Linked DNA regions of Homo sapiens. The main gene of each other region encodes a partner of the protein of the gene in region 3 in a complex. Each region holds a gene or a part of one and is shown on either strand. Other genes may lie near its edges.

The links.
Region 1: TAF5 (region 3) and TADA3 share a complex: the UniProt entries of both Homo sapiens proteins name them as parts of the TFTC-HAT complex.
Region 2: TAF5 (region 3) and TAF1 share a complex: the UniProt entries of both Homo sapiens proteins name them as parts of the TFIID basal transcription factor complex.
Region 4: TAF5 (region 3) and TAF6 share a complex: the UniProt entries of both Homo sapiens proteins name them as parts of the TFIID basal transcription factor complex.
Region 5: TAF5 (region 3) and TAF11 share a complex: the UniProt entries of both Homo sapiens proteins name them as parts of the TFIID basal transcription factor complex.

The regions. Positions count from the first base shown.
Region 1 is NC_000003.12:9,780,749-9,786,848, reverse strand, and holds part of TADA3 (transcriptional adapter 3), read left to right. Parts: intron 1-1,423; coding exon 1,424-1,533; intron 1,534-2,635; coding exon 2,636-2,821; coding exon of another isoform or gene 2,822-2,825; exon of another isoform or gene 2,826-3,723; intron 3,724-3,740; exon of another isoform or gene 3,741-3,837; coding exon of another isoform or gene 3,838-3,868; exon of another isoform or gene 3,869-5,166; coding exon of another isoform or gene 5,167-5,336; intron 5,337-6,100. UniProt on the Homo sapiens protein: Functions as a component of the PCAF complex. The PCAF complex is capable of efficiently acetylating histones in a nucleosomal context. The PCAF complex could be considered as the human version of the yeast SAGA complex.
Region 2 is NC_000023.11:71,372,857-71,377,168, reverse strand, and holds part of TAF1 (transcription initiation factor TFIID subunit 1), read right to left. Parts: intron 2,003-4,312; coding exon 1,883-2,002; intron 220-1,882; coding exon 1-219. UniProt on the Homo sapiens protein: The TFIID basal transcription factor complex plays a major role in the initiation of RNA polymerase II (Pol II)-dependent transcription.
Region 3 is NC_000010.11:103,380,500-103,386,599, reverse strand, and holds part of TAF5 (transcription initiation factor TFIID subunit 5), read right to left. Parts: intron 4,880-6,100; coding exon 4,759-4,879; intron 3,363-4,758; coding exon 3,233-3,362; intron 1,275-3,232; coding exon 1,110-1,274; intron 1-1,109. UniProt on the Homo sapiens protein: The TFIID basal transcription factor complex plays a major role in the initiation of RNA polymerase II (Pol II)-dependent transcription.
Region 4 is NC_000007.14:100,107,052-100,113,151, reverse strand, and holds the end of TAF6 (transcription initiation factor TFIID subunit 6), read left to right. Parts: intron 1-234; coding exon 235-354; intron 355-898; coding exon 899-1,044; intron 1,045-1,152; coding exon 1,153-1,230; intron 1,231-1,322; coding exon 1,323-1,424; intron 1,425-1,830; coding exon 1,831-2,013; intron 2,014-2,877; coding exon 2,878-2,952; intron 2,953-3,078; coding exon 3,079-3,204; intron 3,205-4,112; exon of another isoform or gene 4,113-4,611; coding exon 4,612-4,785; exon of another isoform or gene 4,786-5,028; coding exon 5,029-5,226; exon of another isoform or gene 5,227-5,528; coding exon 5,529-5,906; 3' UTR 5,907-6,082; downstream 6,083-6,100. UniProt on the Homo sapiens protein: The TFIID basal transcription factor complex plays a major role in the initiation of RNA polymerase II (Pol II)-dependent transcription.
Region 5 is NC_000006.12:34,881,543-34,885,042, reverse strand, and holds part of TAF11 (transcription initiation factor TFIID subunit 11), read left to right. Parts: exon of another isoform or gene 1-1,605; coding exon of another isoform or gene 1,606-1,644; intron 1,645-1,962; coding exon 1,963-2,111; intron 2,112-3,500. UniProt on the Homo sapiens protein: The TFIID basal transcription factor complex plays a major role in the initiation of RNA polymerase II (Pol II)-dependent transcription.

The DNA.
Region 1 (6,100 bases), on a different chromosome or scaffold from region 3:
AATAATATATAACTTGTGCACCTAATAGAAAAGTGCACAGATCATAAATGTACAGTTTTCACAAATGAGCTTGTATTACCAGCCTGGAGATTACAAAATGAAACATTACTATATCCTAGAAGCCCCTCTCATGCCCCTGTTTTTCTCCAACTTTCCCCAAAGGTAGCCTTACTCCACAATTACTTTTGCTAAGCATCTGTTGGAGGGGCTTTATACACATCCTCCCACTGGAGGCCAGGACAGTGGTTAACGCTGTGTTACAGATAAGAAGATTGAGGCTCAGAAAAGGGAACTGTTCACTTGAGGTCTCACACACCAGGATTCAAACCCTAGCTTCAGGGGCCCTGTCTTTATACCTGCTGGTTGACCTTAGACACACCCTCACACTCTTTCACCTCATTGAGACTCAGTTTTCTATTCTGGCTCAAACACAAGAGTTTATCTCATGGAACAGTCTGGGTACATGTTGCAGGTTATCTAAGGTAGGGGAAGGGGCAGGTCTCTATCTCATATCATCAGACAGGGACCCCAGCTGACGGTGGCCTTGCAGTCTGCACAAGGTCACTCTGGGCGTAATTGTCACTCCAGTCCCACAGAATAAGAGCAAGGAGGCCGGGCGCGGTGGCTCACGCCTGTAATCCCAGCACTTTGGGAGGCTGAGGCGGGCGGATCACAAGGTCAGGAGATCGAGACCATCCTGGCTAACATGATGAAACCCCGTCTCTACTAAAAATACAAAAAAATTAGCCGGGCATAGTGGCAGGCGCCTGTAGTCCCAACTACTTGGGAGGCTGAGGCAGGAGAATGGCATGAACCCAGGAGGCGGAGCTTGCAGTAAGCCGAAATTGTGCCACTGCACTCCACAGCCTGGGTGACAAAGTGAGACTCCATCTCAAAAAAAAAAAACAAAACAAAACAAGGAGGAGTGTGTGAAGGAAACTTTTTGGCCCATGCCTAGCTATGGCTCTTATCTCTTCTGATCACTTTCCCCTGGAGAGAACTTGTCACATGACCATACCCGCCTGCAAGAGAGCCTGGGAAGTACAACTGGACAGGCATTGCCTAGCTGCCGTGGAGGAAAGAAGAGTATGGCATTCGGACAGCTAGCATCTCCGCCACAGCAGGCCTAGCACACTGCCTGGTGCGTTGCAGACGCTTCACAAACCTTAGCTGTTCATTACCATCATTGAGTGTTAATCATTTCTCTTCTGTGTTCCTTTTTCTTCACATCAGTACGAAAATAAAAGGGATTTCTAGAATGATCAAAGCAATTTGGGATTGGTATGGGAAGGCTTCCCACGGTAGGTGGGATGGGAAAGATAAAAGGATATTTCTGGTGTTTGAAGACTGTCAGTGTAGGTCAGAAAGGAGCAGGAAAGTGGAACAGCTATTTTTCCTTCCACTCATTTTTGTGGTCTTCTAGGAAAATATTATTTCCCCTATGGAGGATTCTCCTATTCCTGACATGTCTGGGAAAGAATCAGGGGCTGACGGGGCAAGCACCTCCCCTCGCAATCAGAACAAGCCCTTCAGGTGAGTGGTGTCCTATCCACAACCCACAGTCTGGCCCCCGCTTCTGTTGGCTTCTCTCCATCTCAACCTGGGGAAGTCCTCATCAGTAAGAGGCTGGGGGCAGTTAGGTGAAGCCTAATAGCAGTCTCAAGTGTGAGTGATGACCCAGCGTGTCTGCATGCACAGACTGAGTGCAGGGTTGTTCAGCACAGAACTGTTCATACCATAAATAACCCAAATGTCCTGCTGAAGGGGAATGGTTGGCTAAATTGGCATAACTCCATATGATGAAATAACTTGGGGCTATTAATCATATAGCTGCAAGTATAGAGAAATATAGTTAAATGACATGAAAAGATGTAAATTATAGAGTGACAAGTGGAGAAAATATTAGTTGTAGCCCAGTATGGATGGTATAATACTATTTTTACTTAAAATATATTTCTTTTTTTCTTTTTCTTTTTTTTTTTTTGAGATGGAGTCTCGCTCTTGTCGTTTAGGTTGGAGCGCAATGGCGCAATCTTGGCTCACTGCAACCTCCGCCTCCCAGGTTCAAGCGATTCTCCTGCCTCAGCCACCAAGTAGCTGTGATTACAGGCGCCTGCCACCATGTATGGCTCATTTTTGTATTTTTAGTAGAGACGGGGTTTCACCATCTTGGCCGGGCTGGTCTTGAACTCCTGACCTCAGGTGATCCTCCCACCTCGGCCTTCCAAAGTGCTGGGATTACAGGTGTGAGCCACCATGCCTGGCTTACTTACAATATATTTAAATATGTGCACATAAGGGAAAAAACCTGGACTAATATGTAGCAAAAGATTAGGAATAATATATAACAAAATCTGGAATATATATAATAATATATAACAAAATAATAGTAATTCTCTCTGGGTTGTTGGCATTATGGGTTTTTCCATATTTTTTGAATAGTAGATACATACGTTGCTTGTTTTAAAAACCAGACCAGATGTGTCTGTCCCTCCCTTTGTATCTGGATAGATACAGAGGGGGTGCCCAAAGGGAAAGGCAGGTTTTCACTGACCTTGGGAAGCCCTGGGAACCTCCAAGGTGGGCCCTTCTCCAAGCTGGCTCTTGAGTCTGACGGGCCTGCCTCCCGCTGCAGTGTGCCGCATACTAAGTCCCTGGAGAGCCGCATCAAGGAGGAGCTAATTGCCCAGGGCCTTTTGGAGTCTGAGGACCGCCCCGCAGAGGACTCCGAGGATGAGGTCCTTGCTGAGCTTCGCAAACGGCAGGCTGAGCTGAAGGCACTTAGTGCCCACAACCGCACCAAGAAGCACGACCTGCTGAGGTGAGCGTTAGCAGGATGCACAGTCCCGGGGGTGGCCTTGGAGGCTGTGGCCACGGCTAGTCACCTTTCAGGGGTTTTACAACAGGCTTTCCAATCCTGGCTGGCCTCTAAATCACCTGGAGAGCCTCGAAAAAAACAGCAGTGGCCAGTCCACCGGGTATGTCCCAAACAAATTCTGATTCCACAGAGTGGGGCTCAGGCATCTGTGACTGACCGATTGATTTGATTTGTTTTTGTTTTGTTTTTTTTTGAGAGGGAGTCTCGCACTGTCACCCAGGCTGGAGTGCAGTGGCATGATCTCGGCTCACTGCAAGCTCCGCCTCCCAGGTTCATGCCATTCTCCTGCCTCAGCCTCCTGAGTAGCTGATACTACAGGCACCCACCACCACGCCCAGCTAATTTTTTTGTATTTTTAGTAGAGACGGGGTTTCACCGTGTTAGCCAGGATGGTCTCGATCTCCTGACCTCGTGATCCACCCGCCTCGGCCTCCCAAAGTGCCGGGATTACAGGCGTGAGCCACTGCGCCTGGCCTAGTTTGGTTTTTTAATTATGGTAAAGGCATAATATAAAATGTATCTCCATGGGAGGCTGAGGCAGGAGAATCAGTTGAACCTGGGAGGCGGAGGTTGCAGTGAGCTGAGACTGCACCATTGCATTCCAGCCTGGGCAACAAGAGTGAAACTGCATCTCAAAAAAAAAAAGAAAAAAAATTTACGCTTCTTAACCATTTTTAAGTGTACAGTTTAGTAGTGTTACCCATATTCACATTGTTGTGTGATTTATTTTTTGTCTTTTCATGCTTCTTTTCTTTTTATCCCCAAAGTTTTGTTATTAAAAATTTGATACACACAGAAAATCTGAAAGAATCATACAATAAACATCAGTATATTCTCCACCTAGACTAATTAACTGTTAACATTTTGTTGGAGATCTGTGATTTTTATTTGCTCATCACAAGAAATTGACCAGTGTTTTAGGACATGTTCTTTTGGGAATCCATCACAGTGCCTGCCATTCATTTGATGTCAACTCCCATCCATCTTGTTCTGCATTGATCACGAGGGTATAGGTGACATCTTGAGGAAGACTGTGGAATAGCTACCCTTTAGGTAAAGAGATAGGGAAGCAACCCGAACAAGTCTCTTTGCTTCTCACAGACAAGTGCTGTGTCTTAACTTCATAGAGCCCTGACAGGACAGGGCACATTCATTCATTTGGCCTTTTTTTTTTTTTTTTGAGACGGTGTCTCACTCTGTTGCCCAGGCTGGAGTGCAGTGCCATGATCTCGGCTCACTGCAACCTCCGCCTCCCGGGTTCAGGCAGTTCTCCTGCCTCAGCCTCCTGAGTAGTTGGGATTACAGGCATGCACTACCATGCCAGGCTAATCATTTGGCCATTCTTACTGTCTCTTAGATATTGTGCTGGGGGCCAGCAAGAGAGGCAGAGCAAGGGACTTGCAGATTACTAGCAGATGATCAGTAAAGATAAGTGCCATTAAAAGGAGAGGTAGTTGCTGACAAGCTGCCAGGGTATTTAAGGATAAGAGTGACTAATGTATGCTGAGGGCCTACTGTGTGTCAGGGGCTTTATGTACACTCTCTCAAGTGTCTTGACAACAACCCAGGAGGGAGGAGCTATTTTCGTTGTTTACCAGATGAGGAAATAAAGGCCCAGTGAAGCGAAATGCTCTGCTGAAGGTCACACAGTCAATAAACAGCAAGCTGAGACTTGAACCTGTGGTTGAATCAAAGCCTCTTTCTATAATAGTTTGTTTTCTCTGAAAGGTGAGAAGAAGAAAACACAGATGGAAGAGGCACTGAGGGAAGCAGAGGGAGAGAGAGGAAGAGAGAGAAAAGCAGGCATGTGCAGTTACAGAAGTAGTGGGCCCTAGCTGGGCCTGGTGGCTCATGCCTGTAATCCCAGCACTTTGGGAGACTGAGGTGGGAGGCTTGTTTGAGCTCAGGAGTTCGAAACTAGCCTGGGCAATGTAGTCAGACCCCCTTCTCTACTAAAAATTTTTAAAAATCAGCTAGGCATGGTGGCACATGCCTATAGTCCTACTCAGGAGGCTGATGTGGGAGGATTGCTTGATCCTGGGAGGTAGAGGCTGCAGTGAGCTTGATCAGGCCACTGTACTCCAGCCTGGGTGACAGAGTGAGACCTGTCTCAAAAAAAAAAAAAAAAAAAAAAAAAGAAGTAATGGGCAATGAAGAAATGGCTTGCAGCTCTCAGGAAACCAGAGCACAGCCCTTACCCTGCTGCAGAGCAGCTGCAAGGCCTTAAGCAGCCCCTGACCTGAGCATCTCCTTCCCCTTCTGGAAAACTGGCAGGCTGGACTCAATCACTAAGTGACCTTCCAGCTCCACCATCGATGAAATGTATAAATCAGACCCTGTTCAGAGAGATTGATCTGGTGTCTCACCCACCTCCTGTCAGCCTCAGGCTGCCTAGACCTTAGGGGGCTCTGGAATGCAGATGCCGACGTAAGCAGGCCTTCTGCTGGCACCGGAACACCTGAAACAACAGTGTTTAAAAACAAGAGTTTGGCCCCAGCCTGCTCCAGATCTCCCCCTCACTAACTGTGGGATCCTGGGATCATCTTTGAGCCTCATTTTCCTCACGGGTAACATATGAATAATAGTACATATTTTGCAGGGTTGTTAGGATTAACTGAAAGACAGAGAGAGAGAGTGGGTGTGCCTGTGTGTGTGTGTTTGTGTGTGTGTATGTATATATATATATATTTTAGAGACAGGGTCTTACTCTGTTGCCGAGGTTGGTCTCAACTCCTGGCTTCAAGTGATCTTCCTGCCTCCATCTCCCAAAGCGCTGGGATTACAGGCATGAGCTACTTTGCCCAGCCTACTGTGTATATTTTTAAGACCTTTTTTTTTTTGAAGACACAGTCACGCTCTGTTGCCCAGACTGGAGTGTAGTGGCATGATCATAGTTCACTGTAACCTTGAACTCCTGGCCTCAAGCAATCCTCAGCTCCCTTGGAGTTGGGACTACAGGTGTGCACTACCACACCCAGCTAATTTTTTAAATTTTTTGTAGAGACAGTCTCACTATGTTGCTCAGACTGGTCTCGAACTCCTGGGCTCAAGTGATCCTTCTGCCTTGGGCTCCCAAAGTGCTGGGACTGCAGATGTGAACCCCCATGTGCAGCCAAGACTTTATTCTTCTAGAGCAGTTTTAAGTTCACAACAAAATTGAGAGAAAGGTACAGAGAATTCCCGTATCTCCCTGTCCCCACATGTGCACAGCCTCCCCCGTGA
Region 2 (4,312 bases), on a different chromosome or scaffold from region 3:
AAAGTTCTGTGACACTTGGCAACAGCTTGGTGGCATCATGCTGCATAATCCCAGCCAATGGAAGGGTCAGCTTTCCATCTTCAGATTCTGCCTGTGTTGCTTCCTGAGGTCCCATCTCAGATTCTGAGTCAGAGGAACTACTGAAGTCCACTTTCTCTGAGGCCAAAGAGGAAGGGGCAATGATGGAGGGCAAGATGATGCCTTCTCCATTTTCAGACACTGCAACAAGGAAGAGAAACCCCTTTGGCATGTAACTGTGAACATATTTCCTCGAATTCCGCAAACACCCACTTTAGGCTATACACATGGCTCAATGCCAGGAGATATAGGCCCAAGCACCCAAATCATAATACTAGTATGCAACCCAGAAAACTCATTCTAACTCGTTATCTCCCATCGTCCCCCAACTCACCACGTACCTGGTACCCTAGGGTTGTGATGAGAAAACAAACACTATTACTACATTTACTACTTTCCGATTTTTTGTTGTTTTTTTTTTTTTGAGACAGAGTCTTGCTCTGTCGCACAGGCTGGAGTGCAGTGGTGAGATCTTAGCTCACTGAAACCTCTCTCTCTCGGGTTCAAGTGATTCTCCTGCCTCAACCTCCTGAGTAGCTGGGATTACAGTCATGCGCCACGACAGCTGGCTAAATTTTTGCATTTTTAGTAGAGACGGGGTTTCACCATCTTGGCCAGTCTGGTCTTGAACTCCTGACCTCAAATCATCTGCCTCCACCTCCCAAAGTGCTCGGATTACAGGTGTGAGCCACCACACCTGGCCCTACTTTCTGATAAGTAACCAATATTGTAACCAATGTTGTGACCAATAGCAAAACTATGTAATACTTTATACCACTCAGGTAGTCCTAGTTCAGAGACTCATGAGCTGGAGAATTTTTTTAAGCCCACGGGACAACATTAAGGTTCTTTGGCATAAATAAGATCTATAAAACAAAGTTAACAGCTGACATTTAGCAGACTGTTAAAAGAAATGGCTTAAAACTCCAACAGGAAGAATTTAGGTTAATACAAGCCTCAAAATACAGGAGGTCAAAAACACTGCTCTTCCCCAGTTTTCAAGCCTAGGACAGTTACTGTTATAGGAATAGGTAAGATAAACACTGAAGACTCTACTAGCCTTTGAAATCTCTGAATATCTGGTAGTTGACACTATCTGATTTATCAACATTCCAGGGCACCTTCCTAATTTAACCACTTCATTTAAAATAAAGCCATCTAAACAAGTAGTTTCCAAATACCAGTATACAGATCAGTTGTATCATAAATTACTTAAGAAACTCTTTAAGATTCCCGGGTTCGGCAGGGAGCAGTGGCTCACGCCTGTAATCCCAGCACTTTGGAAGACCAAGGCGAGCGGATCACTTGAGGTCAGGAGTTCCAGCCCCTACTCTGGAGGCTGAGGCATGAGAATCACTTGAACCCGGGAGGCGGAGGTTGCAGTGAGCCAAGATCGTGCTACTGCACTCCAACCTGCACAACACAGCAAGACTCTTTCTCAAAAAAATTTTAATTAATTTAATTAAATTCCTGGACTCTACCCAAGATCTTCTGAATCAGGCTCAAGGGGTGAAAGTCAGGTATTTGTTTTTTTTTTTTAAAGATTCTAAGTGATTCTGATGGGTAGCCAGATTTGAGAACCACTGACTAAACTACTATTTCTTGAGCACATGTTAAAATACTGTTGCCAAATGTTTTAAAAGTAAAACTTCCCTTTAATACTAAAATTTGCGATTGTATGAATTATTTCTAGAAGTTTTGTCCCTTCATATAAGCTTAAGTTTGTCCCTTATGTGTGTGCCACAAGCCTGGACTTAGGAATGAAAACTTGCTCCTCAGACAAAAGTAGACAATCTCTACTTACCACCAGTAATAGAATCCTGGTCCTTATCCTTCTTCATTGGTCCCGGGGGTGGAGGTGGAGGAGGCATCAACTTGCAATCAATGTCTTCACAATCAGCATCATAGTCATCTTCATCATAATCTAATAAAACCAAGAAGGTGATCTCCTCAATATCCAAAATATTATACAACCGCCTTAAGCTTCCTTGCCACTCAATTTTTTTTTTTTTTTTGAGACAGAGTCTTGCTCTGTCGCCCAGGCTGGAGTGCAGCGGTGCAATCTCAGCTGACTGCAACCTCCACCTCCCGAGTTCTCCTGCCTCAGCCTCCTGAGTAGCTGGGATTACAGGAATGTGCCACCACGCCCAGCTAATTTTTGTATTTTTAGTAGAGACGGGGTTTCTCCATGTCGGTCGGGCTGGTCTCGAACTCCTGACCTTGTGATCCACCTGCCTCAGCCTCCCAAAGTACTGGGATTACAGGGCCACTCAATAATTTAAAGCACCACATGAAACACTATGCATATCCCTTAAGAACACACAAGTGAAAAAAGCAAGGTGAGGGCCAGGCATGATGGCTCACGCCTGTAATCCCAGCACTTTGGGAGGCCAAGATGGGCAGATCACTTGAGCCCAGAATTTCAAGACCAGCCTAAACAACATGGAGAAACCCCATCTCTACAAAAAATACAAAAATTAGCTAGGCGTGGTGGCACACGCCTGTAGTACCAGCTACTCAGGAGGCTGAGGTCGGGAGACAGTTTGAGCCCAGGAGGTCAAGGCTTTGATGAGCAGTAATCGTGTGACAGAGCAAGACCATGCCTCAAAATATTTTACATATCTATCTGAAACATAGCTTTAGCCTTCAGAAAGAGATGACATCACGGTGCAAGTCAATTGCTATAACATATATAATATCTCACACAAGATATGATGGCTGGGCATGGTGGCTCACGCCAGCACTCTGGGAGGCTGAGGCGGGCAGATCACCTGAGGTCAGGAGTTCAGAGACCAGCCTGGCCAACATGACAAAACCCCATCTCTGTCAAAAATACAAAAACTAGCCAGGAGTGGTGGCATGTGCCTGTAATCCCAGCTACTTGGGAGGCTGAGGCACAAGAAGCACTTGAACCGGGAGGTGAAGGTTGCAGTAAGCCGAGATTGCGCCACTGCACTCCAGCCTGGGCGACACAGTGAAACTGTCTCAAAAAAAAAAAAGAAAGAAAGAAAAGAAAAAATCATACAACATATGAAAGCGTTTCCAAGAGCTGCTTGAAACATTTGCTCCTTTCCTGACCATATCTTTTTTAGAATTTTCATACTGGGCCAGGCACAGTGGCTCGCACCTGTAATCCCAGCACTTTGGGAATCTTCTCCCTCTGTCAGTTTCCCTTAAGACTGGTCTTTCATCTCTCAAATGAGAGATGACACACTTTTTCTATCTGTCATCTGCAGTTTATTACTCTTTTCACTGCCCCTTAACCATTGGCATCACTCAAGAATTCGTCCTAAAGACTCTGCTTTTATTCCCCTATACGTTCCCTATTCCCTCTCTCAAGAATCACCTTCACCTAGATTAAACCCAAATCTACATATGCGGCCCTAATTTACCTCCTCTACAACTCCACGACTCTTCTGCTTCCTAAGGAAACTTTCTACTCAGATATTTAACAGCTGTACCTTATAAAACACTGAAATATCCTTTATCTCTTTTAAATTCCCTATCAACATCACATCCATATGCATTTTCCCAGCTTATGGCTTTAGTCCACTGTCTCCTTCATCAATCTCATAACCCCCAATATACATTTATCCAATTGATCATTACAAATAGTAAGTATAGGGCCAGTGAGGTGGCTCACACCTGTAATCCCAGCACTTTGGGAGGCTGAGGCGAGCGGATTGCCTGAGCTCAGGAGTTCAAGACCAGCCTAGGCAACATGGTGCAACTCAGTCTCCACTAAAATTCAAAAAATTAGCTGGGAGAGGTGGCACGGGCCTGTAGTCCCAGCTACTCAGGAGGCTGAGGCAGGAGAAATGCTTGAACCGGGGAGGCAGAGGTTACAGTGAACCGAGATTGCGCCACTGCACTCCAGCCTGGGCAACACAGTAAGATTCTGTCTCAAAAAAAAAAAAAAAAAAGTGGCCAGGCACAGAGGCTCACGCCTGTAATCCCAGCACTTTGGGAGGCTGAGGTGGGTGGATCACGAGGTCAGGAGATCGAGACCACCCTGGCTAACACTGTGAAACCCCGTCTCTACTAAAAATACAAAAAATTAGCCTGGCCTGGTGGTGGGTGCCTGTAGTCCCAGCTACTCCGGAGACTGAGGCCGGATAATGGCGTAAACCTGGGAGGCGGAGCTTGCAGTGAGCTGAGATCGCGCCACTGCACTCCAGCCTGGGTGACAGAGCGAGACTCTGTCTCAAACAAACAAACAAAAAAGTAAGTATAG
Region 3 (6,100 bases):
GCCTCCCCAGTAGCTGGGACTATAGGCGTGTACCACTGTAGCCAGCCAAAACTTAAGTTCTAGAACTCCAATTCTCTGTATATTCTTCCTCCTCTATTCCTAGTCTAAACCACAGAAAAGTATTTTCCCCTAGTTCTGGCCACCAAATAGTTGTTTTGTTTTGAGACAGTCTCACTCTGTCATCCAGGCTAGAATGCCGTGGTGCAATCTCGGCTCACTGCAACCTCTGCCTCCTGGGTTCAAGCAATTCTGCCTCAGCCTCCTGAGTAGCTGGGACTACAGGCACGTGCCACCACACCCGGCTAATTTTTGTTTTTTTTTTCAGTAGAGACGGGGTTTCGTCATGTTGGCCAGGCTGGTCTGGAACTTCTGGCCTCAAGTTATCTGCCCTCCTTGGCCTCCCAAAGTGCTGGGATTACAGGCGTGAGCCACTGCACCTGGCCAAATAGTTTCTAACCTGAACTACCTTATCCTCAACTTCTAAGCAGATGACAGAGAAACATAAAGGTGCTCACAGTGGTATGGAAGACAAGGTTAAGTATCTGATGGGGTTGGGAGGGAGGATTGTTAATTAACTATTTTTTAAAAACCAGGATTCATATAGATGTAATTGCAGATATAATAATACTCCTGCCCCAATTTCTTTTCTTTTTTTTTTTTTTTTTTTTTTTTTTGAGATGAAGTCTCGCTCTTGTCCCCTAGGCTGGAGTGCAATGGTGCGATCTCGGCTCACTGCAACCTCCGCCTCTCAGGTTCAAATGATTCTCCTGCCTCAGCCTCCTGAATAGCTGGGATTACAGGTGCCTACCACCACGCCCGGCTAATTTTTGTATTTTTAGTAGAGACGGGGTTCCACCATGTTGGCCAGGCTGGTCTCAAACTCTTGACCTCAGGTGATCCATCCACCTCGGCCTCCCAAAGTGCTGGGATTACAGGCATAAGCCACTGCGCCCGGCCCCAATTTCAAATAAGTTATAAATGCAAAAGCTTCTCAGAAAGTTGAACCTCAATAATGGAAGTGTAAATGAATTTGGCTGGCTGTGTAATTCCCAACAAGAAACCATTCTGTTCATTGAATAGACCCAGTCATAAGATCACAGTGTTCTTACCGAGCTACTCGGTCATGGCCCCCTGACACAAAATAATATCCATATGGAGAAAATTGTGTGTCCCATACTGGATAGTTGTGTCCTTTATATCCCACCAAACAAGTAAATGTTTGAAGGCTCCACAATCTAACAGTTCCGTCCTCTGAAGAGGAAAGCAGATAGTTCCTGAGAGAAGAGAAGGTGATATATTTGACTCCCAGAGTAACCTTTGGTCACCTGCCCAGTTTTATATACATTTGAATACATTTAATATTTTATATATATTTGACTATATTAAATATACCTAACATGCTGCATCTCACTTTTAATTCATACACGCAATTCACAGTAGGTATCAATTGAAAGAACTAACCAAACTAATGTTAACCCTGACACTCTACATATACCGAGCACCTACTGAATGAGGTAATATGATACAAAAACTTAGGGAAAATCAGAGTTCTTTACAAGAAAAAAATAGCAGGGGTAATTAACAAAGTATAGTCAAATAAGGTCAATTGAGAAAGTTTAAGAAATGTGATATGTCACTTAAAACTCAACAATTTTTGACCCTAAAATAAAGATGCTATTTTCCCATGCTGTGTAAGCTATGTAAGAATTAAAAAGGAAATGTCTTTTGAAGAAAAAGAAAAAAAAACTACAGACATGCTAATAATTCTCTACCTTTTTCAAGCATAAACACAAAAGATTGATAGTCAGAAGGTTATTACAATTTTCACTGAAATCAGACGTTTCCCTCAAAAATGTATCATCTGGCAAAACCTTATCAAGCAACAAAAAACCTAATTCTCAAAGTTTCGTAATGATGAAACCTTGATGGATGGAAAGCTATTATCTTTTTTTCTTTTCTTCTTTTTTTGAGATGGAGTTTTGCTCTTATCACCCAGGCTGGAGTGCAGTGGTGCAATCTCGGCTCATTGCAACCTCTGCCTCCCATGTTCAAGTGACTTTCCTGCCTCGGCCTCCCAAGTAGCCAGGATTACAGGTGGGCGCCACCACACCCTGCTAATTTTTGTACTTTTTAGTGGAGACAGGATTTCCCATGTTGGCCAGGCTGGTCTCAAACTCCTGATCTCAGGTGATGCGCCTGTCTTGGACTCCCAAAGTGCTGGGATTATAGGCGTGAGCCACTGTGCCCGGCCTGAAAGCTATTATCTATCCAAGTAATATACTGATGGTATTATGAATACAAAACACCCTCCACCCATTTTTACAGTGTTAGAGATCATGAAAAATAGGCAAATACCTATACACATAGGATGACATTGTAATCATACACCTAAAGGGAAGCAAACCAATTTTGAATTTCCTTTTTCATTTACTCTTAGTACTTTTGATTATAGAAAGATTAATCCTCAATTACTAGCTAATATGCCATTAATGTCAGGAATTTGTCTTAAATTTGATGAAGCAGCCAGAAGACACAATGCAGGGACCCAATGAAGCAATTCAACCCCTAATGGAGTTCTATAAAACTAAAGCTTTGGTTGGTTATTTACCATTGGGTAACAAATAAAAATAATTAAAAAAAAAAAAGGGAAATACTAAAGCTAATTTTTAAAACCAGTAAGCCCTGAAACTGTGCATTTTGATTCTATAAATTTGAGTATACAGGCCAGGCACAGTGGCTCACGCCTGTAATCCCAGCACTTTGGGAGGCTGAGGTGGGCAGATCACCTGAGGTTGAGAGTTCAAGACCAGCCTGACCAACATGGAGAAACCCCATCTCTAATAAAAAAATAAAATTAGCCAGGTGTGGTGGCGCATGCCTGTAATCCCAGCTACTCAGGAGGCTGAGCCAGGAGAATCGCTTGAACCCAGGAGGCGGAGGTTGCGGTAAGCCAAGATCACGCCATTGCACTCCAACCTGGGCAACAAGAGCGAAACTCTGTCTCAAAAAAAAAAAAAAAAAAGTGAGTATACATTAAATTGCTACCATGTACAAACACCAGGATTCAAAGATGAATTAGCAAATGGCAAGATTCTAAAAGATGATGAACGTCAGACAACCATGAGATTTTTATCAGAATTTTCCCAGCATTTGCATAATGTTTCCAGTAGTTAACTTTTATATAATTTCAATATAACATAGCAGTATTTAATTTTTATTGTTTGTATTTTACCTATCCGGACTGAAGCTGGCTCCGTAGACAGGCCCACTGTGACCATACAAAATCTTCAACTCACTTGCTGTTTTCTCATCCATGATTCTTTCTAAGACATCATCTGATTCTTTGTCTATAAGACTAAGATCTAAAATGGTCCAGAAATATTGATATTTTATAAGTACATTCATCAAAACTTTTAAAGTAATCATATCACAGTGCAGGAGAGGAATTAACATTTGAAAATTTCCTCCTATATACCAACCGCACTTTGCTAATCCCTCTAAATTAGGCAGTATCATCTCAGCGTGTAAGAGAAGAAAATGACGTTCAGAACAGATAATTTGCTAGAGTGCACACAGCTACTCAGTGTGGGAACCAGAACTGAAACTCAGTTTTGCCCACTATGCCACAGTGTTTCACAAAATGAAAACTATGGGCCAGGCATGGTGGCTCACACCTGTAGTCTCAGAATTTTGGTAGGCCAAGGCGGGCAGATTGCTTGAGCCCAGAGGAGTTCGAGACCAGCCTGGACAACATGGAGAAACCCTGTCTCTACAAAAAATAAAAAATTAGCCAGTGTGGTTGCACACACCTGTAGTCTCAGCTACTCAGGAGGCTGAAGTGGGAGGATCACTTCAGCCCAGGGATTAGAGGCTGCAGTGAGCCGTGATCACACCACTGCATTCTAGCCTGGGCAACAGAGTGAGACCCCATCTAAAAAAAATTTAAAATTAAAAAAAAAAAACCTATGGAAATATTGAAATAATTTAAAATATATTGTTTTATTTAAATAATATAGTTAGTAAAAAACTTTATTTCAGGCCGGGTGTGGAGGCAGGAAAATCGCTTGAACCAGGGAGGTGGAGGTTGCAGTGAGCCACCTATAATTCCAGCACTTTGGGAGGCCAGACAGGCGGATCACTTGAGGTCAGGAGTTCGAGACCAGCCTGGCCAACATGGCGAAACCCTATCTCTACTAAAAATACAAAAATTACCTGGGCATGGTGGTGGGCACCTGTAATCCCAGCTACTGGGGAGCTGGGGAGCTGACACAAGAAAATCCCTTGAACCTGGGAGGTAGAGGCTGTAGTGAGCCAAGACTGCGCCATTGCACTCTAGCCTGGGTGACAGGGCGAGACTCTGTCTCAAAAAAACAAAAAGTAAAAAACTTTCAAATAAAATCCTGACCTTATTTGTTCTTTTTAGCCATTTTTATGACTAAAACAGGAAGTACCATCCCTTATTTAAAGATTTTTTAAGATTTACAAGCAATCATAAAATGTTAGATTTTTAACTTTAAGTTTTTTAGCTTAATACTCACTCATTCTACAGATGAGAAAACTGAGACCTAAAGAAATTAAACCAGTCTAGCACCCCAGTCACTCCAAAGCTTTTTTCACTGTTGGGAATGTTAGAATCTTGAGTTAAAGTAAAATCAAGTGAATTTCTGTAAAGAACACAATCTCCTGTGTATTTTCCATGGAATCAAGATTGGTATAGACTAATGGCAAGTTCACATTCCAAAAGGTCATCTCAGTTACCTGATGCTTGTTTGACACTACGAAGCTTTTTGGGTGTTACCGACCACACTCTGACAGTTGAATCTGCAAAACCTCCAGCAATCAGACTAGAATCATCAGTGACATCCACTGCAGTGAGACCCTGCCAATAAAAGGGTTAGACTAAACAATACTATTTTAGGATATTTAGAGATAGGAAGCAAATGTTAATCATTTTCACACTATACTAAATATCTCCTCAATCCTCTATTTTAAGGAATATATAAAGACTTTTAAAATTCTTGATTTAAAATATTGGCCAAGCGCACTGGCTCATGCCTGTAATCCCAACAATTTGGGAGGCTGAGACAGGTGGATCACCTGAGGTTAGGAGTTCAAGACCAGCCTGGCCAACATGGTGAAACCCCATCTCTACTAAAAATACCAAAATTAGCCAAGCAGGGTGGTGGGCACCTGTAATCCCATCTACTTGTGAGGCTGACGCAAGAGAATCACTTGAACCCAGGAGGCAGAGGTTGCAGTGAGCCAAAATCGTGCCACTGCACTCCAGCCTGGGCGACAGAGTGAGACTCCATCTCAAAAAAAAAATAATAATAAAATAAAATACTAAGTTTGGCCGGGCGCGGGGGTTCATGCCTGTTATCACAGCACTTTAGGAGGCTGAGGCGGGTGGATTGCCTGAGCTCAGGAATTCAAGTCCAGCCTGGTCAACCTGGTGAAACCCCTTCTCTACTGAAAATACAAAAATTAGCTGGGCGTGGTGGCTCATGCCTATAATCCCAGCTACTCAGGAGGCTGAGGCAGGAGAATCACTTGAACTGGGAGGCGGAGGTTGCAGTGAGCCAAAATTGCACCACCGCACTCCAGCCTAGGTGTCAGAGCAAGACTCCATCTCAAAAAATGAAATTAAATTAAAATAATAAAATAAAATAAGGTTTATATGGCTGGGCACGGTGGCTCACGCCTGTAATCCCAGCACTTTGGGAGGCTGAGGCGGCCAGATCACTTGAGGTCAGGAGTTCAAGACCAGCCTGGGCAACACGGCAAAATCCTGTCTCTACTAAAAATACAAAAATTAGCCAGGCATGGTGGAGGGTGCCTGTAATCCCAGCTATTCAGGAGGCCGAGGCTGAGGCACAAGAATCGTTTGAACCCGGGAGGCAGAGGTTGCAGTGAGCTGAGATCTCACCTCTGCACTCCACCCTAGGTGACAGCACAAAACTCTGTCTCAAAAAAAAAAAAAAATTGATAAATAAGTTTACGTAAGTACTTAAACCAAGTTCAACAGAAATGAACTACAATTTGCTCCTCCTCAAAGGCTAGCAGAATTCTGATCGGTGAAACAAATGCCATTAAACATTGA
Region 4 (6,100 bases), on a different chromosome or scaffold from region 3:
TGGGACTACAAGCACACACCACCACGCCCGGCTAATTTTTTGTAATTTTAGTAGACACGAGGTTTCACCATGTTGGCCAGGCTGGTCTCGAACTTCTGACCTGAGGTGATCCACCCGCCTTGGCCTCCCAAAGTGCTGGGATTACAGGCATGAGCCACCGCATCCGGCCTCCTCCCACCTTTTACTTTTCTACTATGCTCATCACCCCTCCCGCTGTGCCTGCTTTCCCACCAGCTCCCAAAGAGCAACAGAAGGCTGAAGCCACAGAACCCCTGAAGTCAGCCAAGCCAGGCCAGGAGGAAGACGGACCCCTGAAGGGCAAAGGTCAAGGGGCCACCACAGCCGACGGCAAAGGTCAGTCCTCCTAGGCTAGGCCTCTCTGGACTCTTGCCCAAAGCCACATGGCCGTTTGTTTTGTTTCCTTTTTTTTTGTTTTTGAGACAGAGTCTCACTCTGTCACCCAGGCTGGAGTGTAGTGGTACGATCTCAGCTCACTGCAACCTCCACCTCCAGGGTTCAAGCGATTCTCCTGCCTCAGCCTCCTGAGTAGCTGGGCTTACAGGTGCCCACCACCACGCCCGGCTAATTTTTGTAATTTTTTTTAGTAGAGACAGGGTTTTGCTATGTTGGCCAGGCTGGTTTCAAACTCAGCCTCATGTGATCCGCCCGCCTTGGCCTCCCAAAGTGCTGGGATTACAGGTGTGAGCCACCATGCCAGGCCTCCATGTGGCCATTGGTGAAGTGGCTGAGGTCAGGGCCAGAGCCCCAGAAAGGATGGGGGAGCCTAAGAAGAAGCCAGGTCTCCTGGGTCTCAGGGGAAGTGGAGGGTTAAGGTTCTTCTGTTACTGAGGTTTCTTCTGGAGCTTTCTTTGTCAGACCCACCTTTCCAATCACACAGGGAAAGAGAAGAAGGCGCCGCCCTTGCTGGAGGGGGCCCCCTTGCGACTGAAGCCCCGGAGCATCCACGAGTTGTCTGTGGAGCAGCAGCTCTACTACAAGGAGATCACCGAGGCCTGCGTGGGCTCCTGCGAGGCCAAGAGGGCGGTGAGGGCCCCACCAGCTTGCCCTGGCCCTGAGACGCCTCCTCCTGGGGGCCCTATGAATTGCTCCCCACATCCCACCCCCACCTGACTGGCTTCCCTCCTCCCACAGGAAGCCCTGCAAAGCATTGCCACGGACCCTGGACTGTATCAGATGCTGCCACGGTTCAGTACCTTTATCTCGGAGGGGGTGAGAGCATGAGGTTCCACAGTGCAGGGACGGCAGTGGAAGCTCCTGTGAGGGTCTCCCTGCCCCATGCCCAGCACTTCTCCCTCCCACAGGTCCGTGTGAACGTGGTTCAGAACAACCTGGCCCTACTCATCTACCTGATGCGTATGGTGAAAGCGCTGATGGACAACCCCACGCTCTATCTAGAAAAATACGTGAGTGATCCTGCCCATCCTCCCTTCCAGGGACTAGGGACCCTGCTGCCACCAACAGGAAGTCAGTGGTCAGCAGTGGCTCACACCTGAAATCCCAGCAACTTTGGGAGGCCGAAGTGGGAGGATTGCTTGAGCTCAGGAGTTTGAGGACAGCCTGAGGACAGTAGTGAGACTGCTATCTCTACAAAAAAAATTAACCAAAACAAAATTAGCCAGGCATGGTGGTGCACACCTGTGGCCCCAGCTACCTGGGAGGCTGAGATGGGAGAATTGCTTGAGCCCGGGAGATTGATGCTGCAGTTAGCCATGATTGTGTCCCTGCACACCAGCCTGGGTGACAGAGCAAGACTTTATCTCAAGCAGACAAACAAAACCAGAATCAGCTGTCCCGCCCTTTCTCCCTTAGGTCCATGAGCTGATTCCAGCTGTGATGACCTGCATCGTGAGCAGACAGTTGTGCCTGCGACCAGATGTGGACAATCACTGGGCACTCCGAGACTTTGCTGCCCGCCTGGTGGCCCAGATCTGCAAGCATTTTAGCACAACCACTAACAACATCCAGTCCCGGATCACCAAGACCTTCACCAAGGTGAGCCAGGAAAACTTGAGCGTCATTTGCTTCATCACTGGCCACCTCTGGTTGGGGGAAGTCACACTGGAAACAAGGGGGCAGAGGGAAGAGGGACTGGAACTTGTGGGGGTCTAAGGGTCTTGAGGCTTGTCTGTAATACCTTTTTTTTTTTTTTTTGAGATGGAGTCTCGCTCTTGCCCAGGCTGGAGTGCAGTGGTGCAATCTCTGCTGACCGCACCCTCTGCCTCCTGGGTTCAAGCGATTCTTCTCCCTCAGACTCTTGAGTACTTGGGATTACAGGCACCTGCCACCACAACTGGCTAATTTTTTTGTTTTTGTTTTTTTGAGATGGAGTTTCGCTCTTCTTGCCCAGGCTGGAGTGCAATGGTGCAATCTTGGCTTACCACAACCTCCGCCTCCTGGGTTCCAATGATTCTCCTGCCTCAGCCTCCCGAGTAGCTGGGATTACAGGCATGTGCCGCCACACCCAGCTAATTTTGTGTTTTTAGTAGAGACGGGGTTTCTCCATGTTGGTCAGGCTGCTCTAGAACTCCCGACCTCAGGTGATCTGCCTGCCTTGGCCTCCCAAAGTGCTGGGATTACGGGTATGAGCCACTGCACCTGGCCACAACTGGCTAATTTTTGTATTTTTAGTAGAGACAGAGTTTCACCATGTTGACTAGGGTGGTCTGGAACTCCTGACCTCAGGTGATCTGCCTGCCTCGGCCTCCCAAAGTGCTGGGATTACAGGTGTGAGCCACCACGTCTGGCCTCATTGTAATGTCTTAATGATTTACAAGGAAAGTGTCTATGAAAGACTTAGGTCCCTGTCAATCATCCTTTCAGACCCCTTCATCTTAGTTTATTTCCTTCCCCTTACAGAGCTGGGTGGACGAGAAGACGCCCTGGACGACTCGTTATGGCTCCATCGCAGGCTTGGCTGAGCTGGGACACGATGTTAGGCCTCTGGGAGGAAGAAATGGGGGAGGGGACACAGTCATGAGGTTATAGAGGGCACTGTACCCCCATCTGGGAGACCCTGGTGACCCTCCGGCTTTTGCTTGTCCTTTTCCCTTCTAACAGGTTATCAAGACTCTGATTCTGCCCCGGCTGCAGCAGGAAGGGGAGCGGATCCGCAGTGTGCTGGACGGCCCTGTGCTGAGCAACATTGACCGGATTGGAGCAGACCATGTGCAGAGCCTCCTGCTGGTGACTGAAGCCCCTGTCCCCACACCTGCCCACTGAGACACAGGCAGTGTTTAGCAAGCATATGGCATATTTTATTCACTTACTCCCATCTTTGCCTCATGTTTTCAGAGGACATTGCAGAGTCTGATACTATTTTACAGATGGAAAGACTGAGATTAGACTGAGTAAGAAATAAGGGGGCTGGGCATGATGGCTTCTGCCTGTAATCCCAGCACTCTGGGAGCCTAGGAGTATGAGGCCAGCCTGGACAACGTAGCGAGATCCCACCTGCAAAAAAAAAAACCAAAAAGCCGGGAGTGGTGACGTGTCTGTGGTCCCAGCTACTAGGGAGGCCGAGGTGGGAGGATTGCTTGAACCCAGGAGTTCAAGGCTACAGAGAGCTATGATCGTGCCACTGCACTCCAGCCTGGGTTACAGAGGGAGACCACCGCCCCCCAAAAAAGAAGGGTTTAACACGCTCAGCCTGTGGCATTTGGACCATCCTTCCCCAATGCTCCTGTTACTCTGTGGTCTTCTCTGTACAAGGCAAATGCGCTCTTGATTAACCATCCTGCCACAGTATTTAGCAAGTTCATTCACACATTAGTGCCCATGTTTTCTTTTTCTTTTCTTTTTTTTTTTTTGAGATGGAGTCTCACTCTGTAACCCAGGCTGGAGTGCAGTGGTGCGATCTCAGGCTCACTGCAACCTCTGCCTCTCAGGTTCAAGCAATTCTCATGCCTCAGCCTCCCAAGTAGCTGGGACCACAGGCACGCGCCACCATGCCTGGCTAATTTTTTGTATTTTTAGTAGAGACGGGGTTTCACCATATTGGCCAGGCTGGTCTTGAGCTCCTGACCTCAGGTGATCTGCCAGCCTCAGCCTCCCAAAGTGCTGGGATTACAGGCATGAACCACCACACCCAGCCATTCTTTTTTTTTTTTTTCTGAGACAGTCTCACTCTGTCACCCAAGCGGGAGTGCACTGATGCAACCTCTGCTCACTGCAGCCTCCACCACCTGGGTTCAAGCATTCTAGTACCTCAACCTCCCCAGTAGCTGGGACTACAGGTGCGTGCCACCATGCCTGGCTAGTTTTTGTATTTTTAGTGGAGATGAGGTTTCTCCATTTTGGCCAGGCTCTTGACCTCAAGTGATCCACCCACCTCAGCCTCCCAAGTGCTGGGATACAGGCCTAAGATGCTGCACCTGGCCCCGTGCCCATCTTTTCTTATGAGAAAGCCCACAGTGTTCTGTACACACACTAATAGTTCAGCATAATTTGGCCTTCAACAGGGGCACTGAGATGATAAGGAATGTCCTTTTTTACCCCATCCCCAAGGTTCTTCTCAAGAGTGTCACCAGCCCTCCCTCTACCTGGCTTTTTTCCCCAGCCCTCCCTCTACCTGGCTTTTTTTCTGTTCTGCAGAAACACTGTGCTCCTGTTCTGGCAAAGCTGCGCCCACCGCCTGACAATCAGGACGCCTATCGGGCAGAATTCGGGTCCCTTGGGCCCCTCCTCTGCTCCCAGGTGGTCAAGGCTCGGGCCCAGGCTGCTCTGCAGGCTCAGCAGGTCAACAGGACCACTCTGACCATCACGCAGGTCCGTGGCCGGGTGGGGAGGAGGAATAGGAGGAAGCAGAGGAGAACCCCTGTGTGGGACAGGCACTTGCACACAGCCACATGTGCCCTCAGTCAGTAGTCTCAGGGCAACCAGGCCCTGAGTGAGGATGCCCCAGCCCTAGTGAGAGCCACTGAGGAAGAGCGAGGGGAGCCCAGGCCTCTCCCTTCAGACTCCTCTTCTTAGTAGATGGTGCCACTTCCCCCTTTCCTCTTCTCCCCGCAGCCCCGGCCCACGCTGACCCTCTCGCAGGCCCCACAGCCTGGCCCTCGCACCCCTGGCTTGCTGAAGGTTCCTGGCTCCATCGCACTTCCTGTCCAGACACTGGTGTCTGCACGAGCGGCTGCCCCACCACAGCCTTCCCCTCCTCCAACCAAGTTTATTGTAATGTCATCGTCCTCCAGCGCCCCATCCACCCAGCAGGTATGCAGAGCTGTGGGACAGGGAGCATCTGGAGGGCCTGGGTTACCTCAGAGCACCCTGGGGAGGCCCAGGAGTAGAGCACAGTCCCCTCTGGGCCCCAAGTCAAGAGCTGGAAGAGGCGCCCACCAGGGTCCTGCAGGGCTGTAGCTGCCCTGCATGAACAAGGTCTCCAGCCATAGCTGTCTACAGGGTGAACTACAGGAACAACTTGTTCAGGCAGGGAGCGAGTGAAGCGTCCTCGCCAGGCCTCTGGGGGGCAGGGAGGGCACAGGGCAAGCGGCCTGCCTTTCCTTTCTATCCAGGTCCTGTCCCTCAGCACCTCGGCCCCCGGCTCAGGTTCCACCACCACTTCGCCCGTCACCACCACCGTCCCCAGCGTGCAGCCCATCGTCAAGTTGGTCTCCACCGCCACCACCGCACCCCCCAGCACTGCTCCCTCTGGTCCTGGGAGTGTCCAGAAGTACATCGTGGTCTCACTTCCCCCAACAGGGGAGGGCAAAGGAGGCCCCACCTCCCATCCTTCTCCAGTTCCTCCCCCGGCATCGTCCCCGTCCCCACTCAGCGGCAGTGCCCTTTGTGGGGGGAAGCAGGAGGCTGGGGACAGTCCCCCTCCAGCTCCAGGGACTCCAAAAGCCAATGGCTCCCAGCCCAACTCCGGCTCCCCTCAGCCTGCTCCGTGATGCTCCACCTGCCAGCCCCCGGATTCCCACACATGCAGACATGTACACACGTGCACGTACACACATGCATGCTCGCTAAGCGGAAGGAAGTTGTAGATTGCTTCCTTCATGTCACTTTCTTTTTAGATATTGTACAGCCAGTTTCTCAGAATAAAAGTTTGGTTTGTAAGTTCTGATCCACTGCAGTCCTTCCT
Region 5 (3,500 bases), on a different chromosome or scaffold from region 3:
ACTAATGAATTAGCACATTAAAAAACATAAATGATAAAATTAAAACATTATTTAAAATGTAAATGTATAACATTACAAAATATGAAAGGCTATAGGCACTAATATGGAGATCTTTAAAGTTATAAAGACATTTAATGTTCAAGTTTAGGCCAAATAAATGTGAAAATCTGAGAAAAATAGGTGATTTTTTAAAGGAAAATACAAACCACCAAACTTGAAGCACAGTTAGAAAACTTGTATAAATCAGTAACTAAAAAGAAATTGAAAAGATTGTCAAAGATAGACTACCTTCATCCCACCTATTCCCATATTCCTGTATGAGTTTAAATTTGAATTCCTCTTTAGGGACAAGTTAAATCTCATTAATGAGTTTTGTAGTATACTTAAGATTCTACATTAAGTCAGAGGGGGTGAAGTTTGGATTTGATTTTTATTATTAAACAGCCAGTTTTTTAAGTTCAGGGGTACATGTGCAGGATGTGCAGGTTTTGTTACATAAGTAAATGTGTGTCATAGGGGTTTGTTGTATAGATTATTTCATCACCCAGGTATTAAGCCTAGTGTCCCTTAGTTATTTTTCCTGATCCTTTCCCTCCTGCCACCCTTCATCCTTCCATATACCCTTCACCCTTCCATATACCCCAGTGTGTGTTCCCCTCTATGTGTCCGTGTGCTGTCATCATTTAGTTCCCACTTATTAGTGAGAACATGCAGTATTTGGTTTTCTGTTCCTACATTAGTTTGCTAAAGATAATGGTCTCCAGCTCCATCCATGTCCCTGCAAAGGACATGATCTCCTTTTTTATGGCTGTATAGTATTTCATGGTGTATACTGGAAAATACATTTTCTTTATCCAGTCTACCATTGATGGGCATTTAGGTTGATTCCATGTCTTTGCTATTGTGAATAGCACTGCAATGAACATAAGTGTGGATGTGTCTTTATAATAGAACAATTTATATTCCTTTGGGTATATACCCAGTAATGGGATTGCTGGGTCAAATGGTAATTCTGTCTTTAGGTCTTTGAGGAATTGTCACACTGCCTTCCTCAATGGTGAACTGATTTATACTCCAACCAAGAGTTTAAAAGCTTTCCTTTGCCTCCACAACCTTGCCAGTATCTGTTATTTTTTGACTTTTGAATAATAGCCATTCTGACTGATATGAGATGGTATCTCATTATGGTTTTGATTTGCATTTCTCTAATCAGTGAAGCTGACCTTTTTTTCACATGATTGTTGGCCACAGGTATGTCTTGTTTTGAGAAGTGTCTTTGCCTACTTTTAAGTGGGGTTTGAACAGGCATTTATTAAACATCCAGCATAAGTAAAATTGCATTAAATGCTGATGGGGGGGAGATATAAATAATAAGAGACAAACCTATCTTCAAAAAGACTAGTAATGTGAAATAAACATTTGCATGAAACAGTAGGATTGAAGAATAAGAACAAAAGAGCACTACGTGTGAGAAGCTCACTTGAAAGTCCCAAATTGAAATAAACACTGTTTTGATGAGAAGGGGCCTCCTTTTTAATATTCTTTCCATGTGGAATCATCAGCAGTAAAGAGATCTATAGATCTGGAAGCAGAAGAGCTGGCTGGATGGAGGGGACTTTGCTGACATCCCCTCTGAAAAATAAGGTCAGAAGAGTGGGCCCGGGGGAGGGTGATTTTCATGATCCATGGCATTTCATTACCCTTGTAAACAGATACTGGAGCTGTGCTCATAGCCAAACTGGAAAACTAGATTATTTAGCAGGTTTTCTTTCCATAGCTGAGCCATAATCTTCCCTTAGGAGAGATACTGTATCTTATCCTTGATGGTACAGTCAGTGCCTAGAACTGAAAAACTACTCAATAAATGGATTTGTTGTTTTGTGATAAGGATGATGTCTTCTTACTTTGCCCAAGCCTGGAAAGTAGGCCAAATATATAATAGAGTTTCTTTCATCTTCCCAGCTCGAGAGTCAGGATGTCTCAGATTTAACAACAGTTGAAAGGGAAGACTCATCATTACTTAATCCTGCAGCCAAAAAACTGAAAATAGATACCAAAGAAAAGAAAGAGAAAAAGCAGAAAGTAGATGAAGATGAGATTCAGAAGATGCAGTAAGTCACTTTCTTATCATTCCCCATTTCGAGGCTCTCACTTGACCACACAAATTTAATAAATTTTTCTTGGTGTTTAAATTTTCTTTTATAAACTCAAAAGAAAATAAAACGATTAATACATTATGGCTGGGCATGGTGGCTCACGCCTGTAATCCCAACACTTTAGAAGGCCAAGGTGGGAGGATTTCTTGAGGCCTAAGTTTGAGACCAGCCTGGGCAACATAGTGAAACCCTTTCTCTAATGTTATGTTATGTTATGTTTTTTTTTTTATTTTTTATTTTTTTGAGATAGAGTCTCACTGTGTCGCCCAGGCTGGAGTGCAATGGTGTGATCTCGGCTCACTGCAGCCTCCACATCCTGAGTTCAAACGATTCTCATGCCTCAGCCTCCCGAGTAGCTGGGACTACAGGCATGCACCGCCATGCCCAGCTAATTTTTGTATTTTTAGTAGAGACAGGGTTTCACTATGTTGGCCAGGCTGGTCTTGAACTCATGACCTCACGTGATCTGCCCGCCTCGGCCTCCCAAAGTGCTAGGATTACAGGCATGAGCCACTGTGCCCGGCCTCTATTTAAAATTTTTTTTTTTTGAGACAGAGTTTCGCTCTCGTTGCTCAGGCTGGAGTGCGGTGGTGCAATCTCTGCTCACTGCAACCTCCGCCTTCTGGTTTCGAGCGATTCTCCTGCCTCAGCCTCCCAGGTAGCTGGGACTACAGGCTCCTGCCACCATGCCTGGCTAATTTTTGTATTTTTAGTAGATACAGGTTTTTGCCATGTTGGCCAGGCGGGTCTCGAACTCCTGACTTCGTGATCCGCCCGCCTCAGCCTCCCAAAATGCTGGGATTACAGGTGTGAGCCACTGTGCCTGGCCAAAAACAATTTTTTCAAATAATTATGTTACAGCATAGAAAATATAAATAGATAAAAAGAAGGCCGAGATCGGTGGCTCACACCTGTAATCCCAGCACTTTGGGAGGCTGAGGCGGGTGGATCACTTGAGGTCAGGAGTTTGAGACCAGCCTGGCCAACATGGTGAAACCCCGTCTCTACTAAAATTACAAAAAATTAGCCAGGTGTCGTGGTGGGTGCCTGTAGTCCCAGCTACTCGGGAGGCTGAGGTAGGAGAATTACTTGAACCCAGGAGGCAGAGGTTGCAGTGAGCCAAGACTGCGCCACTGCACTCCAGCCTGGGCGATAGAGCCAGATGCTGTCTCAAAAAAAATAAATAGATAAGAAGAAAAAATAATTACCTTACCACAGAGATATATCCTGCTTATAAGTTTCAAGATAGTTTCTATACATATATATCTATAAATTTTTTTTTCCACAAATGTCAAATACTGTTTTGTAGCCTATTTTTCACATTAGATATGGTGAATGTTTTCC